Regions from separate parts of the Homo sapiens genome. Here region 2 is linked to region 1. A link means that fine-mapping ties the variant in region 1 to the expression of a gene that starts in the linked region. Tissue or cell type: thyroid. Region 1 holds a variant in brackets; the other region holds the start of a gene. All regions are shown on one strand. Distances are between the middles of the regions.

Evidence for each region. PIP is the estimated chance that this variant, and not a neighbour inherited with it, causes the effect.
Region 2: it holds the start of IRF5, and the variant in region 1 is fine-mapped to the expression of IRF5 in thyroid (GTEx, PIP 0.92).

The regions. Positions count from the first base shown.
Region 1 is chr7:129,775,808-129,783,378 of GRCh38, reverse strand. No RefSeq gene overlaps it. Among named protein-coding and RNA genes, the nearest start is that of MIR183, 4.6 kb to the right of the region's middle. RefSeq lists enhancers at 1-518, 519-1,364, 2,211-3,056, 5,595-6,441 and silencers at 2,677-3,476, 3,537-3,616, 3,767-3,896. The variant C/G (reference allele first, on the strand shown) is at 4,289.
Region 2 is chr7:128,934,222-128,941,792 of GRCh38, reverse strand. IRF5 (interferon regulatory factor 5) reads right to left here and starts at 3,866. Exons shown (of 9, transcript NM_001098629.3): 1 at 3,744-3,866. RefSeq lists enhancers at 1,010-1,059, 1,170-1,399, 2,890-2,959, 2,993-3,576, 5,244-5,538 and 2 more and silencers at 3,240-3,999, 6,734-6,823.

The sequences.
Region 1 (7,571 bases):
GGGAAGTTCGTTGGGTTTCCAGTGACTTTGTTGACCCACGAGAATCTAGATGCTAGAGCAAAGGACCGAGGGCTAAGGGCTGGGCCAAGATCGAAAGACTCCCGCTTTGGCTTCCCCGGCACGTGGCCCTGGCGGAGGAAGCACCAGGGACACAGCGGCTGGGGCGGGCACCCGGCGGCAGTCGCGCGGACGAGGGTGCAGGGCGTGCTGAGGCCATCTCGCTGGGCCTGCAGTTTGCAGAGATCTCCGGGTCGCCAAGTACCCACGTGCTCACATGTGCATTTTCTTCATCCCCAGAGGTGCGAGTCATTCTGCCCATTTTGCAAATGGGAAACTGAGGCTTAGAGAGGTGAAGTGAATCCCTCGAGATCGAGATCACAGAGGGACTGGAGCAGGGGAGGACTGGAACTCTGGGTTCCTCTCACTGGGGTTATACTAGTTATGCCATGGGGCCAGGGTTAGCAGGAGAACCTCACCATTCGGAGAGGGGCCAATGGCAGAACCACGGCCGCATCAGTGGGTCTGCGTGAGGGGCTTGTATCCCGGGCACCTTTCCCCCTAGTCCTGCCGCCGGAGGAATGGGAAGGGAGGGGAAGACCGATGGTTACTTCTTTGCCCAAGGTCTTCAGCACGAGTGGGATTGTCATGGAGCTGGCGAAGGGAGCCGTGTGGGGTAGGGACTAGGAGGGAGCAAGCCAGAGGGACAAGCCGCGACACCATTAAAAAGGACGGAGCGCAAGGCGCCGAGTCTCCTAGGTGGGGGCAGCAAGGAAGACAGCGGGTCTTTCCTAAACCTGGCCAAGCGTCGAGGAACCCAAAACTACCCGTCCCGGGGCGCACGACTCCGGGCAGCGTGGGACGCCTGTGGCGAGGCGGAAGGGATCTCTCCAGCGAGAGGGAATGGGGCAATTGCCAGACGGACATTGGATCTGCAGAAGGAGGGGGTAGGATACACGCGGGCTTAGGATGCGCTGGACAGGCCAGCAAAGTGAGGACCCCAGGTCGTCCTGAGCCACCTCTTCCCCCGCCTGAGCCCTGAGCCGTAAGGGATCCAGGGTATCAGGTCCCCGGGGGCCGCCCCCTCACCGTCCGAGTCCAGCTCCGGTTACCTGCCTGGCCTGCTCCTTAAAATATGTATGAGGCCCTTGCGGGTGCAGTTTCGCGGCCCCTCCCGGAGTGGGGCTGGGGGACTCAGGGTGCGAGGGGAGCTGAGGGGGGAGGAAGCGACGCGAGCTCCCCGGCCGGGGCCTTCTCGACTTTCAGCAGCGCATTTAAGAAAAGGTGGAAATCGGATCTGTCTCGGCGGCGCCCCAGCCCCGCCCGCTCCGACGGCCGGACCTCGCGGCCCAGCGGCTAGCTTTCTGCTGCGCGGTGTCTGGTTCTCGACAGCAGGTGAATGGGCCAGGGCGGGGCGCCCGGAGCGCGGGGGGCGGGGCGCGCGTTATAAAGGGGAGCAGCAGGCCGCGGGGGCCACTCGCAGTCCGCAAGGCCTGCGCTTCCCGCTTTGCGGTCCTGGGCACACCCGGCCCGGGTTGCCCAGCATCGCATGGGTCTGAGGACCAGGTAGGGCGCGGGTGCAGAGACAGCCAGGGAGGCTCGAGGCGACCTAGATGGGCGGGGGAATGCTAGTAGGACGGGGAGGGGTTAATGTGGAGCTATCACCCCCTTTTGGCCCGTTGGGCTCTGTGACGTGCTCATTATCTCCGCTGTCCGGGTTCTCGCTCACCGTGCCCATCCCTGGCTGCATGGGGAGAGGGGCCCCGAGGCCCTGAGACTCGTCCAGTTATCCACCTGGGGTGGGAATCTTGCTTCCCGATCCATCTGGCTGCGACATCTACGGCTTCAGCAGGCCCTGCCCGGGAGTCGGGCATATTGAAGGGTTCGTATCCTTGCCGTCACCCTTGGCCCCTCCCGGCTCGGCAGGAGCTGGGGGTGGGGAAACTATAGATTTCCCGGGCCCCGCTTCCACTGCCTCACCCCCTTCTTTTGCTCGAGCCCAAGACAAGGTGTTAACGGTCTTCAAGTGCAAGGGTTAGGTTTGGTGGGAGCATAGGCTAAGCACCACCCTCATTTTACAGGGGCTTCTAGGGTGCCAGATCTGCGGGGGTCGATTGGGAAGAACTAGAAGCTAAAAAGGAGAAGGGCGGATTAACGTTTTATTTTAATCTGGTTTTGAGCTGCCGTTGCCGTCTGGGGCGGCCGGGCGGGGCGGAGCTGGGACTGCCAAGGGCAGCCAAAGCAGCAGGGAGGGAGGGGGCGCTCCGGTGCTCAGGATGCTGGGGAAGAAGGAAGAGGCCACCCCAACGCTGACAGCTTGGAGGACCTAGCCCCTGCCCCCCGGTCCCTTCTGAATGCTCCGGGTGGTGTCAGACCAAAGGACGGTTGAGAAGGATCTAATCCGCGTCCGCGCCCCAGCCCCGGCTGGCCCCGCCCCCTCCCGAGGGAGCCACTGTCGCAGTGGGGGGAGGGGGAGATGGGAACGGGTCTGGGGGGCGGCTCCCCTCCCCCTCCCTCTCTTGGGACAGACAGCCTTTGTTCCCGGCGGCGGCGGCAGCGGTGGCCAGACACCTGTGAGGCCGCAGAACTGGCCGAGGGTGGGCGTGTGAGGACATGGAGGCCCCTTGTCCCCATTCCAGCCCTGCGCCCCTGGGTCCGGGTGCGCCCCCTGAGACAGGTCAGCCTTGAGCACCTTTCTGCGGGGAGACTGCAGAGATCGTCCAGTGGCCCTACGGTGCGCCCCAGCTCCCAACGCACTTCCCCTCCCCCCTCCCAGGGTCGGATTTCCAAGCACGCCACGCCACACACACCTCGGCTAGCTCCGGGCTCAGAGGGCGCTGGGGTGGCAGGGCGTCCGGGCGCACCTCGGCTAGCGGCACCCTAGCCCGAGGGCAGGAGGCGGGGATAGAAGGCGGGCGACGGGACCCCTTGGGGCCAGACCCGGCCGGGTTGGGCAAGCAGGCGGGGCTCCCGGCGTCTCCGCAGTCCCGGACGGGCGTGCCCTGCGCCGCGCACCAACCGGAGCCACATTCAAGGTGAATCATCCCCGGCCCGCCCCCTGCCCCTCCCCGCCTCGCGGCACCTGAGCCAATGGCGCTGCGCGAGGGGCGGGCGGGGCCCGGGGCGGGGGGCGGTAAAACCCTCCTGGAGTCATTCTCTGTGCACTCCGTCGAGCCCCCGCGCAGCCGTGCCGGAGCCGCAGGGCCTCCGTCCAGCCGCGCGGTCCGGGCAGCCCGCGCCCCCTGTTCTTCCGGTCCTCGGGCCCAGGTACCCCTCTGGACCTCCCCCGCCTGCAGCGCGGAGGCGGCTCCTCTTCAGGTGGCCGGGCCGGGGCCTTCCCCGGCAGACCTGTCACCCGACACCCAGGAAGCGCGCGGCCGGGTCCCGGCTCCCCTTTGTTCCCCCGCTGGGCTCGGCGCTCCGGCGCCGCCCCCTCTCGCGGGGCAGCGGAGGTTTGGGCCCGGGCCGGGCGCGCTTCAAGCTCCGTCCATGCGGCTCTTTCCAAACCGGGGCCGTTTTTGCCTGGCTTCTCTGGTGTGGACTCCGCGCGGAGCTGAGAGGCGGCTGTGCGCCCAGCCTGGAGCCGGCGCAGGTGAGTGTCTGGGGCCGGGAGCGGGGGGGCGGGCCGGGCGGAGCCAGAGCGGGGCTCAGTAGAGGAGGCGGAGGCGGGCGCCCGGGACCGGCCGCACTAGAACCCGGGTGCAGGGCAGAAGTCCCGGCGCAGCTGGCTTTCGGGGATGACGCGGCAGTGCCTACTCGCTCTTCCGCGCCTTCAGGCGGAGGCGCCCACGGGGCGCCTGGGTCCCGGGTCCGCCAGTGGCGTCTGCCCAGCGCCCAGCGCTGTTCCCGGGCGGGGGCGGGGGCGGGAGCGGCTGCGGTCCGAGTGCGGCCGGTGCTTGCGAGGTGCCTACCCGCGAGGAGTTTGGCTGGGGTCGGGCTGCGTTTCGCCGCCCTGGTGGGCTCAGGCGGAAGCGCCAGGCTGGGAGGGGGCTGCGGAGAGCGCCGGGGCCCCGGAGCTGGCCCCTCCAGCGTCTTGTCAGGGCTGCGCGGCTGGTTCGAGGCTGCTTCCGTGGCCCGGAGCCGCCCCGCCCAGTCTCTGGGGGAAAGCGGCTCTCAGACCTCCCGTGTGCCTCCACTTCGCGGCCACTCATCCCGGGAACCCCGGCGCACGCGAATGAGACACCGTTCCCCGCCCTCAACTGCCCCATTCCTGTTAATAGCGCTAGTGGCACCCAGGTTCCCAGCCCTTCCCCAAGATCGGCGGCTGGACGGCTTGCCTCTGGCGCCTCAC[C/G]GGTCAGCGCATCCCAGGACTATGGGCAGTGAGGGTGTCACCCGGGGTCAGGGGTCGCCCGATTCCACGGTGTCCTCCAGGCTGAGCCATTCGTTTGCTCTTCCAACCCGGGCTCCCGGACACCGTGTACAGTAATACCCGCCGGGGGCAGGGGCACTGAGGCCGGCTCTGAGCGATTAGGGCCGAGGGCGGGCGGTGCCGTAATCGACCTCCCCACCCCCACAGGCAAGGTGCGGCGGCGCCTCCCAGGTTTGCGCCCGTCTTCGCAAAGCTCCTGAGGGCGAAAATCCTGCGAGCCAGGTGGCGGATTCTCGGGCCGGGTCACTCAGCTCTACGGGTGCGCATCACCCTCTACCTGTCACCCAGTGAGCCCGACCGATGGGCACCGAGTCGGCGGATCTCTGATCCGAGGCCGAGCCTTCGGAGAAATCTGTCCTAGTGGCCTCATCGTGGCCTGAGCGAACGCAAAGGAACCTGCCCCAAGCCCAGCTCTCAGCCTCGACCCCCACATTCCCCGCGCGGCTCTCGGTTCGGACCTGGGCTCGGAGCGGCAGCCTCCACCACTGCTCGTTTCTTTACCGCTCAAGGCCGCCCCTTCATGCTCCTGCGGGGGAGTTAGCGGGACCTCTGGAGTCGGCCTTACGCAAAGAAGAGAAAATTCTAGGATGCCGGCCTCACTTGTGAGGATTTCGTTTATTCTTTTTCTCCTACCGGGGCCCAGTGGCTCTTGGAGTGAGCTCCGCACCCCAGACACCTGAGTATTTATTTAATGGGTCGGTGGCGGCCTGGGCTTCGGGGAAAGGAGCTCTGGGCCCCTCTCCCAGCACCTCATGGGGACACAGGATGACAGGCGCAGCGTCCAGGGCATGCCCGTTCAAGGGCCCCAGCAGCCTCTAGCCCCTGGGACCTCAGGGGCATTTGATAGAGACTGGAGGGATCAGGACCAGACCGGTTGTGGGTGGCGCGGCTGGGACCCTGGACTCCAGATTCGTTGTGTAGAGGTGGAGAGGAGAGCCAGGAGTCGAGCGGTAGGCTATGTGCTGTCTAAGGACCCCGGAGTACCCATAGCCCAGAGTCCTGCAACACTCACCTCTAACACTGGAAGGGGTTGGGGGCCTGCCCTTTGCATTGGGCACCAGTGCCCAGGAAGGGACACCCCTAGGGGAAAGGGGACTCGAGTTTTAAGAAGGCCCAAGTAGAGTTCAGGAGGGTGGGGCTGAGAGCGACCGAAGGTGGGAGGGGGCGCTTTGTGGAGACCTCCTAGGATGTGTAGGACCCCCACACACCCTGTGAGTCCCTGGCTGCCCAGCCTGGCCTGCAAGTTGCATCTCTTTTGGTCCTCTTCCATTGCCAGGCGCTGACGCCCAGCGGGTGTGGGAGACCTTGTCTTCATCTTCCCACTCCAGAAGCGGATTTCTGTGCCTTTGATCTCAAGGTCAGGGCTGTGTCCTGCAGGGAGGGCAGAAGAGGCTGCTATCCTGACCTGCGCCAAGCCATAGGCCTCTGTTTTCCCTTTTGAGATTCCGAGTGGGGATTCTGCTGCTGATGTCGGAGAGCTCCTCTTACCCGCTTTTCGAGAGAGCTGGGAGACCTTGCTTCCCTAGGGCCCAGGCCCCAGCCTCCCTCCACCAGGATGGAGAGGCCCCAGCGGGCGTGGCACCCCCCAGGCACTGCGGCACTTGGGCTTCCTGTCGCATTTGGGTTAGGAGGGGTGAGGCAGGCGCAGGGGAGGAACCTGGCCCAGCCGACTAGAACTGGAAGTGGAGAGGGATTTGGCTTTGCGAGCTGCTCCCTGTATTCCATCCTATGTCAGTTACAAAGATGAGGAAAACAGACCAAGGAGCTCGACAGAGATGCCACAATTTGAAGGAGCGTACGTGTTTGGCTGCTTTGTTACAGGGCTCTCTCCTCTACCTGGGGTCCCTTTTATTCCTTCCTGGGCTGGGGAGAGCAGAATCCCTGGCTCCATCTGTTCTCCAGCTCTAAGGCCTCTGTGGCTCCTTGGTTGCAAGGTGCTGCGTGTTCCCCTTCCCTAACACCTGCCTCTCCCCATCCTTGGCTGTCCCCAAAAGAAGAATGAAGAATTCTTTTTTTTTTTTTTTTTTTTTTTGTTGTTGTTGAGACAGAATCTCGCTCTGTTGTTGCCCAGGCTGGAGTGCAGTGGTGCGATCTCTGCTCACTGCAACCTCCACCTCCCGGGTTCAAGCGATTCTCCTGCCTCAGCTTCGGGCGCCTGCTACCACGCCTGGCTAATTTTTGTATTTTTAGTAGAGACGGGGGTTTCACCATGCTAACCAGGCTGGTCTCGAGCTTCTAACCTCAGGCGATCCTCCCGTCTCCCAAAGTGCGCTGGGATTACAGGTGTGAGCCACTGCGCCCAGCCAGAAGAAAGAAGAATTCTGCATTCTGTTTAATTATCCCAGGGTGAGGCTTCTTGGGAAAGATTTCTCAAAATAGATCTTCCCACCCCCACCCCCACCCCATGCTGAGCTGTCAGGGTGCTATTAAAATGCAGATTTCCAGGCAGGCTCAAGAATCTACATTTCAACAGGCTCCTTGGGTGATGCTTATGGCTACACCCTAAGCAATGTTCATAACTACCCACCCCATACTCTTTGCTAACACCCTGCCATCACCCCTTCCCCTCCCCACCCAAGGCTGGGAAGTCTGGTCTCTCTTCCTTAGTAGAGTTCAGAAAATTGTAGTAAGGGAAACTGAGGCAGAAGGCTGAGGAGTGACTTCCTGAGATCACCACCTCATCAAGCTGGATTGTCCTCTGGGGAGATAGACCAGCTAGAAGGGCAGAGCCCTGTAGTGGGGGTGTGTGGGAGCAGGACAAAGAGTCCTCGGGAGCAGGAAGGGTGGAGCATTAAGCAGTGTCTAGGGGAGAGCGGATGGCTTTGGCCAAGGTACCCAGATGGAGCTCTGAGGTCCACGGGAGGTAGTTCCTGGGGGTAACATCGCCAAGAGGTCTGCATAGTTTCTGGGCCAGGGCACCTGCTCTGACCCTTCCAGGATATTTTCTAGCCACCCTGCCTTCTGGGCCACCGCTGACCTGGAGTAGGCTGAGACTCTAGTGGCCACTCTGCGGAGGCCCCAGCTTGCCTGCCCTGGGTGCCAGCTCCCCAGAGACCCTCCCTCCCACCCTCTCCCTTCTTCCCGTCCTTCCCCAGGGCCTGTGACACCAGAGGCAGGGCCTCCACAGCAACTTCTCTCTAGGCAGCTGCTCTGGCAACCACTGATGCAACCTTCCCAGCCCCTCCCTCGCTCCTGAGCCTCCGCT
Region 2 (7,571 bases), 840 kb after region 1:
CAAGCAGCCCGTTGGCCAGAGAACCGCCTTCCACTACTCACACCACAGGTTAGGCCCACCCCTTGCTCTTGGGGGGCAGCCCACAGCCAGTGACTGCCTGACACCAAAAGCCCGGCTGTCTTGTCTCAAGCTGGCTACCTGGGACAGCGAGCGCTCTGTGGGATCAGCCCGAAGACAGCCTCCTGCTCAGTCTACACCCCTAGTTCGATTCTTCCCTGCCCAAGTTTTCTCACCCTCCATCCCCTGAGAGTTCCCTCCGGAGATGCCCTCAACAAGAATCTCATCTGGAGCTCCCAAGGACACCTGCCCTCAGAGGAAAGCAGTTTCTCAATATCTTTAGAGAAATCCCATCAACCAACTCAACCCACCTCCAATGACAGCAGGCACCAAACAGATGTTACCTCTCTAGGGCCATTCATCTAGGTTCTTGGTCCTCCCCCTTCTCCTCCCACTGGACACGCATTCGGGTAGCACTTAGGAAGGCCCTAACGCCTGCCGGAGCCTGTTAGGAAGGCTACAGGAAACAGAAGCCACAGCTCTAACTGCTACCTACCCAGGGGCACGAGCCCCGCCTCCCAGGCCACAGCTTCACTGCCTCCCTGGAGTCAGGCCAGAGGGACCCTGCCTCCTCCCCTTCACCTGCCCAACTCCCTCTCCAGCCCAGAACCGGAAACTCTCCACAGTCCTGAGTCCCCTTCTGTCCCTCTCCTCCCCTTACCCATGCCCTTGGCCCTTCACTTGAGACCCCTGGGTGGAAGACAGAAAGGACTGGGTCATTACACAGCACAGCCCATCAGAAGTGAATGTGTCGGTCAGCAAGTAAGGAGCAAACGTTCGAGCTGAACTCCCTGTGTCTGGGCCTGCTTTGGCCTTGCAGCATGGAGCCTCAGTTTCCCCTGAAATTCCCTGCCCAGTACCTTTTGGGGTTGCACCTGCCTAGTGCCGCCTCTGAGCTGCTACTGTCTCACATTGCAGGCCTCCCTCAGAGCCCAGCTCTGCTGCCACCAACCCAGGAGAGGTAAGGCCGGCCCTTGCCTGGCCCAGGGGCTGGGACGGGGAGGTGTTCAGAACGCTCCAGCCCTGCCCTGGCCTCAGAACACGCGGGCTCAGTTCCGCTTTCTGCCCCAGCCTCCACCCGGCCCCAGGGGAAACGAAAGTGGCTAGACCGGGACAACTCAGAAACCAGACTCACTGTGGGCTGAGGGAGGGAGCCGAGTGGGTCCCCCAGACCAAATTTCCAACCTCCCACCCAGAGCTGTTCCCCGCACCCCAAACTTGCAGACAGTTTTTGTGCATTTAGTGTGGTTTATAACATGGGTGTGCACCCACCCATAGTTGTATCTGTAGACCCCTGAGAGGCCTTGGCCCTAGAATAGAGGGGTGCCAGTCACCAGCGGCACACAATTCTGGCCGAGCAAGGGTGGACAGAGGAAGCTCTGTCTGCACAGAATCGGGGAGAGCTTCCCTAATGACCCCCTGGGCTGAGGCCGTGCAGGCGCTGGTGCCGTTGGGGAGCTCAGAGGGTCCGGCTGCCTGCCCCCTACTGTCAGTCCAGCAGTCTGGCCCTGCCCAACACGGCTGTTTAATACAGAGCAAGGTTTTGAAATGATAACTCCGACCTCAGTGTCAGAGGGCCGCGTCCATACAGGCAGCTTAGGGAGGGGTGTGGAGGAGGAGCTCCCGTGACAAGCCCGGCTGTGATGAGCGAGAGTCTGTCCACCATGCCACAGAAGGGACTCAGCCTCAAGGCTTTTGCCTGCAGCTAGGTCCACACGAGCTCTAACCCGAACAGCATCCATCCTCCTAGAAGCTCCCTTCTGCCCAGAAAAGGGCTAGGTCTAATTCAGACCACCCCAATCAAGGCCCATGACTTTGGAAGTTCGGTGTCAGAACAGGTCTGCCTGCCAGGCTCCGGAGTCTCTGGGTGAAATGTATGGAGCCCTAGACCTAAGTCAATGGACCTGAGCCCCGGAAGGTGGGGAAATCCAACAGCCTGAGGAAGTCCCTACAATTGTGTGAGGCAGCGAAGCATCCAGTGGGCAGCCCTAGAGGACCTGCTGAGGTGGGGTAAGCCCACAGCTCACCCCAGGGCCATGCTGGAGTCCCAGGAGACAGTGCCCCCACCACCACCCAGGAGCTGCAATTCATGGGCACCAGGGACCCACTAGGGGAGGAAGTGCCACAGCAGTCCTAGTAAGAGTGGCCAGACAGCAGGCGCCCTGCTGCTCCCAGGGTTGGTCTGGGTCACATGTCTCCTTGCAAACCCACACCCAGCTCAGGGAGAGGACAAGGGGTTCCCTGTACAGGCCCTGACCCCCAAATCCCACCCCTCCGGGTCAGCTGCCCACACCCTGGGCCCTGCTGCCCACCTGGTCCAGACAGGCTGAGGCTCTGGGGCAAAAGGTGCCCAGAAAGAAGCTTCTTTCAGCTTCCTCCCAGGGTCAGGGTAGGGGAAGACCAGGGTACAGGGGAAAAACCCCAAAGTAGGGCCTTTAGATAAAAAGGGGTGATTTCCCAGTGCTTCCCTTGACTCTTGGAACCCCTCAGCCCCAGCACCCCAGGCCCCATAACTACTGGGGGTGGGGGCAGGAAGGGGAGGTCTTGCCAGAGGGCCTCCTGAGGGGCTACAGTTTCCTACATCGATACAGCCGAGCCCTCTCTGGTTCTGGTCACTTATCCCCATTCTGGGCCCTCGAGGAGCCCAGGCCCAGCCCAGTCCTCCGCCCCTGCTCCCCCCTCCCCTCCGCCCCCACCCCTCCCGCGTGCTCCGCTGGGGCACACCCCCTGGGCCAGCCCGCGGAGCCACCCCCACCTCCAGAGTCGGCCTCTGGACCTCTCCTCCTGCTGCTGGAGGAGCAGCACCCCGGTCCTCGCCCTGCTGTGTTCAGCGTGGCCGCGAGGCTGGGAAAGTCCCCCACTCCAGCCTCTGCTCCCAGGTACCCGCTCCCGCCCCTCCCGGGGTCCGGAGACAACCATCTCCCCACGCATCCCGGCCATGCTAGCCTCACTTTTCCTCCACGTTTAGCCTCTTCATTGTTGCCTTCTTAAGTTCTGGGACAGGACCTGAGGAAACCAGCCCAGGAACTATTGCGCCCCATCCTTTTCCGCTGCTCGGGGGACGAGAGTCTGCCATTCCCGGCCGCGAGCCCAGGGACGCAGCCTCTACCTGACACCATCTTCCCCCAAACTCTTGCACAGTTCCTGCCATTGGCCTGAAGATCCCGGGGGATGAACGCTTTAACCTCAACCTCTTTTCCGAAAGGGTGAGGGTGGCCCGGTAAGAGCAAGGGCGAGTGCATCGAAAGTAAGGATCGGGCCTCGCTCCTCTGTGGTCCAAGCCAGCCTCCAGCGGGGCTCCCGGGAACCCCCATTCTGGGCGATGGCGAGGGGGAGGGAGAGCAGCAGAGCCGGCGCCCCCCGCAGCGCTGCCCACTCCGCCGCCTGGGTCACTGGGCTCCCCGGGCGCCAGCACCCCAAACCGATCGGGGCGTGGGAGGCGCTTTGGAAGTCCCAGGCCGGCCGGGCGCACCCTGCTGTAGGCACCCACCCGAGCTCGCTTTCCAGGCGCAGCTGGACGCGGACCCCGCCCTACTCCAGTCTTCATCCCGCCGCCCGCAGGTGCCTGGGGGGCGCGGGGCCCAGTCTAGGCCTAGACTTGGGGGCAGTAGCCGGCACCGCTCCCGCCACCCTCGGGGCGCGCCGGGCGCGGACGCAGAGAGGAGAGCGCGGCGGCCGGGACCCACCTGTCTGCGGTGCGCCTGCGTGGCTGCGCCAGGGAGCACCGGCCGGGCGGCGGGACCAAGCTGAGCTCTGCCCAGGCTGCGCCTCCCGCCGGTCCGCCAACCTGCCGGGCACTTCCGCGTCTTGCCGCCCCCGCCCCTGGGCAGCTGCTGCTGAGCTCCGGGCGCGGGCAGTGCCCCGCCCCGCCCCGCGAATCCACTCCGGGCCCCGCACTGACCTGGCAACTGCAGATCCGGGCTGAGCCTCGGGCCAGGCCCAGGGCCTCCAGGGAGATGCCAGACGGCGCGGTGCCCTAGACTGGCCACTGGCTCTTTTGGCAATCTGGAATGGCAAAACTGTCATTTGACAACCCCGTACCTCCCGCTGCAGTGCTCAGTTGGGCCCTGGGAGAGGGTGGGGTGCTTCCCCACTCTGGTCCTCCGGGGCTGCACACAAATGAGGGCGCAGTGTGGCCGACCCACAGCTCCAGGCCCTCCTCTCGCCTGCCTACACCCCTGGCGAGGGTGGCTCTCGCCCTAGAACACAGTCGCTGCCCCCAGGATCCAGACACCCCTTCCAGATGTGCTTGCAGGCGGGAATCCTCTAGTCACTCTGTGCCTTTCTCATCCTCAAACCCTGCACCTGTCTCGCCCCAGCTCCCCTAAGTCGCCTTCCAGTCATCCCAGGGGCAGCGGCGTGGTCGCCTGTCCCACCTCCTCTCACTACTACCTTGACCGTCGACCTGTGGTTCTGAACCGTTTTCGATTCCATAAAGAACCTCACCCCAGAACCTCCACCTTCACACACCTCCTGTTCCTTCTCATGGAATGTTCTTCGCTTGGTAACTCTTGCTCTTCAAAATTTCTGTTTCTGAAATTTTCAGCATCGCCTTCTCTGGAAAGTCTGCCTTGACTTCCCCTCCCAGGTGGGGTTCCAGGGTGCAAATAGCTTCCTGGTTGATTTTGCTTATGATTTTGTTATGGATTGCCAGGGGTTTGGTCCAGGTCTGGCTGCTCACCGCACAGAAAGCCTATCACTGAGACAGCGAGTATTGCCAGGGAAGACTTTATTCCGGTGACATCAGCCAGTGAGCTGTTGAGAGGGGAGACAAACCTCCAATCCATCCCTCCCCTTGACTAAAGTTAGGGGCTTATATAGCAGGGAAGGAAAACAGGAGGGACAAGGAAGAGGAATTGGTCAACAGGCAGCAGGTGTACTGATGTAAGTGTCTCAAGCTTCAGTTCTATGAGCATCTGGCTTTTTGGAAAATTCAGCGGGTTTCAATTTTGATGTCTGATTTCCACTCGAATCAGCTTACTCAGGAACCTCCCTCCTGTCTTTTCATTGTTCATTTTATTTTATTTTATTTTTTGATATGGAGTCTTGCTCTGTCACCCGGGCTGGAGTGCAGCAGTGCGATCTCAGCTCACTGCAACCTCTGCCTCCCCAGTTCAAGCGATTCTCCTGCCTCAGCCTCCCAAGTAGAGACGGGGTTTCACCATGTTGGCCAGGCTGGTCTCGAGCTCCTGACCTCAGGCGATCCACCCGCCTTGGCCTCCCAAAGTGCTGGGATTACAGGCGGGAGCCACTGCGCCAAGCAGAGCCTTGTATTTTTAACAAATAAAGTAGTATTTGTTGATGAATCAGAACTTTGACCTTCCCTCCCCTCCCTTCTCCTGGGTTGAACTTTACCTTTAACAAGTTAAAAAAAGACACTCATGTGTTAACGTTTTTTTTTTTTCTCTTCTGTATCTCTCCCTCTTTCCTGACCTTTGAAGCCCTAATATGAAGTCGAAATATCATTATATATAAGTATTTTATTATTTGTATCTGCTGAGTATTTCATTATTTCATATTTTTAAAATTTAAAGTATGGATGGGGAAAATGTGAATGGGTAGATCGTTTTATATTTCTTTCTTTAAAAATGAAATTGCTAGGCCAGGCACGGTGGCTCACATTTGTAATCCCAACACTTTGAGAGGCTAAGGCAGGCAGATCACTTGAGTCCAAGAGTTCGAGACCAGCCTGGGCAATATGGCAAAACCTTGTCTCTACAAAAAATACAAAAATTAGCCTGGCGTGGTGACACACACCTATAGTTCCACCTACTTGGGAGGCTGAGGTGGGAGAATTGCTTGAACCCAGGAGGCACACCACCGCACTCCAGCCTGGGCGTAGAAGTGAGATCTTATCTCAAAATAATAATAATAAAATGAAATTGCTATTTCAAAAGTGGCTCCCCACAAAATGGGAACCTTTTTCACTGGAGGTCAGTTATGCTTAATAGAAAAATATTCTATGCTGGTCGTATCTGGAGCAATAGCTAAGAAGAGCCTTCTTTTGTTATCAAATACTCCTCACCCATTCTGAGGGACCGTGAGACCCTAGAATTCTGCCCTCTGCCCCCTTCCCACTGTCCATCTTGCTCAGGTGAGGCCCCTTCCTTAGAGCCTCTGAACCTCAAGAAGCAGCACGGGCTGCGTGCAGAGAAGGGGCTTGCACCTGGCTTTGCTGTATTCCAGCCAAGTGGCCTTAAGTAGGACCTCAAATCTCATTTCCTCGTCTCTAAAAGGGGGATGATGTTACCAAGCCGGCAGCATTGATATGGGGCTCCCGGGATAGAGGCTATGCAGGGGCTCAGCTTGGCTCAGATCCTGACTTCCCTCAACTGAAAGAACCTGAGCCAAGAATCATCTGGGGCCAGAGACATGGCCCAGGAGAAAGGAAGGACAGAGAGCAGCACTCCAGTGTTTCCAGGATCTGGGATCCCTTGGCCTCCCAGTGCCATCCTGGGGGTGGAAGGGCAAGTAGAGGGGAAGTGAAGCCACACCCGGCCCTTGTGTGAGCACTCCCATTTCCCCTTGATGGGCCAGGAGGCGGTGGGGACAGGGAGGTCTGTCCGGGCCCCCCACTCCCCACAGTGAGATGGCCCCTTCCCCCATTTCCCCTGGCTGGAATATCACAGACTGAGGGTGTGGTAGGAGGCACCCTCCCCTGACTCGAGTAGAAGCTACGCTGTGTGAGCGAGTGTAGAGTGGGGTGGCTGGGGTGGGGAGCAGGGGGGAGGAGGGAAGCCGTGTCACCAAAGGGAACTGAAAGAAACCCAGAGGCCCACTGGGCAGCTGAACAATGCACCCTGGCTCTGGAACAGCCCCCTTCAGTGCAGCCTGGGTTGATGACAACTGCCTTTGCCTCTCAAAACCTCTACCCCAGGAAACCCACCCCCTCGGCCTGGGCTCTCAGGGGTCCCCAGGCTGACTGTCCTATTTCTCAGAAACCCCGAGTTTCTGAGAACTTGTTGGCTGGACATCAGGCTCTGAGGTCAACAGGTCTGAGTCAAATCCTCACTCTGCAATCTAGAATTGCGTGACCTAAGCAAGCCATTCACTCCCCCAGAAGCCCCATTTCCCATCTGTAAAGGAGAATGGTGACACCAGTGTCACGAATTGGCTGTGAGTCTACATTCAACAATGCTTATCGGGCATGTTGTACCTGCCAGGATAAAGTGGTGGACAATTTCTACTTTGTCTAAAAACCCCTGCCCTCCTGGAGCTTCCATTCTGCAGAGTAAGATAGACGATAAATCCTCAAGTAATGAAATCGGGTGAGGCCTTGAGGGGCACCTCACAGGCTATGGCTTTGCTAGGGACAGTCACTGAAAGGTTCAGATCTGAGGCATGACATAGTCTGATTTAGATTTTAACACCTCTTGGCCGGGTGGGGTGGCTCACGCCTGTAATCCCAGCACTTTGGGAGGCTGAGGCAGGTGGATGACCTGAGGTCAGGAGATCGAGACCAGCCTGGCCAACATGGGGAAACCCCGTCTCTACTAAAAAAAAAAAAATACAAA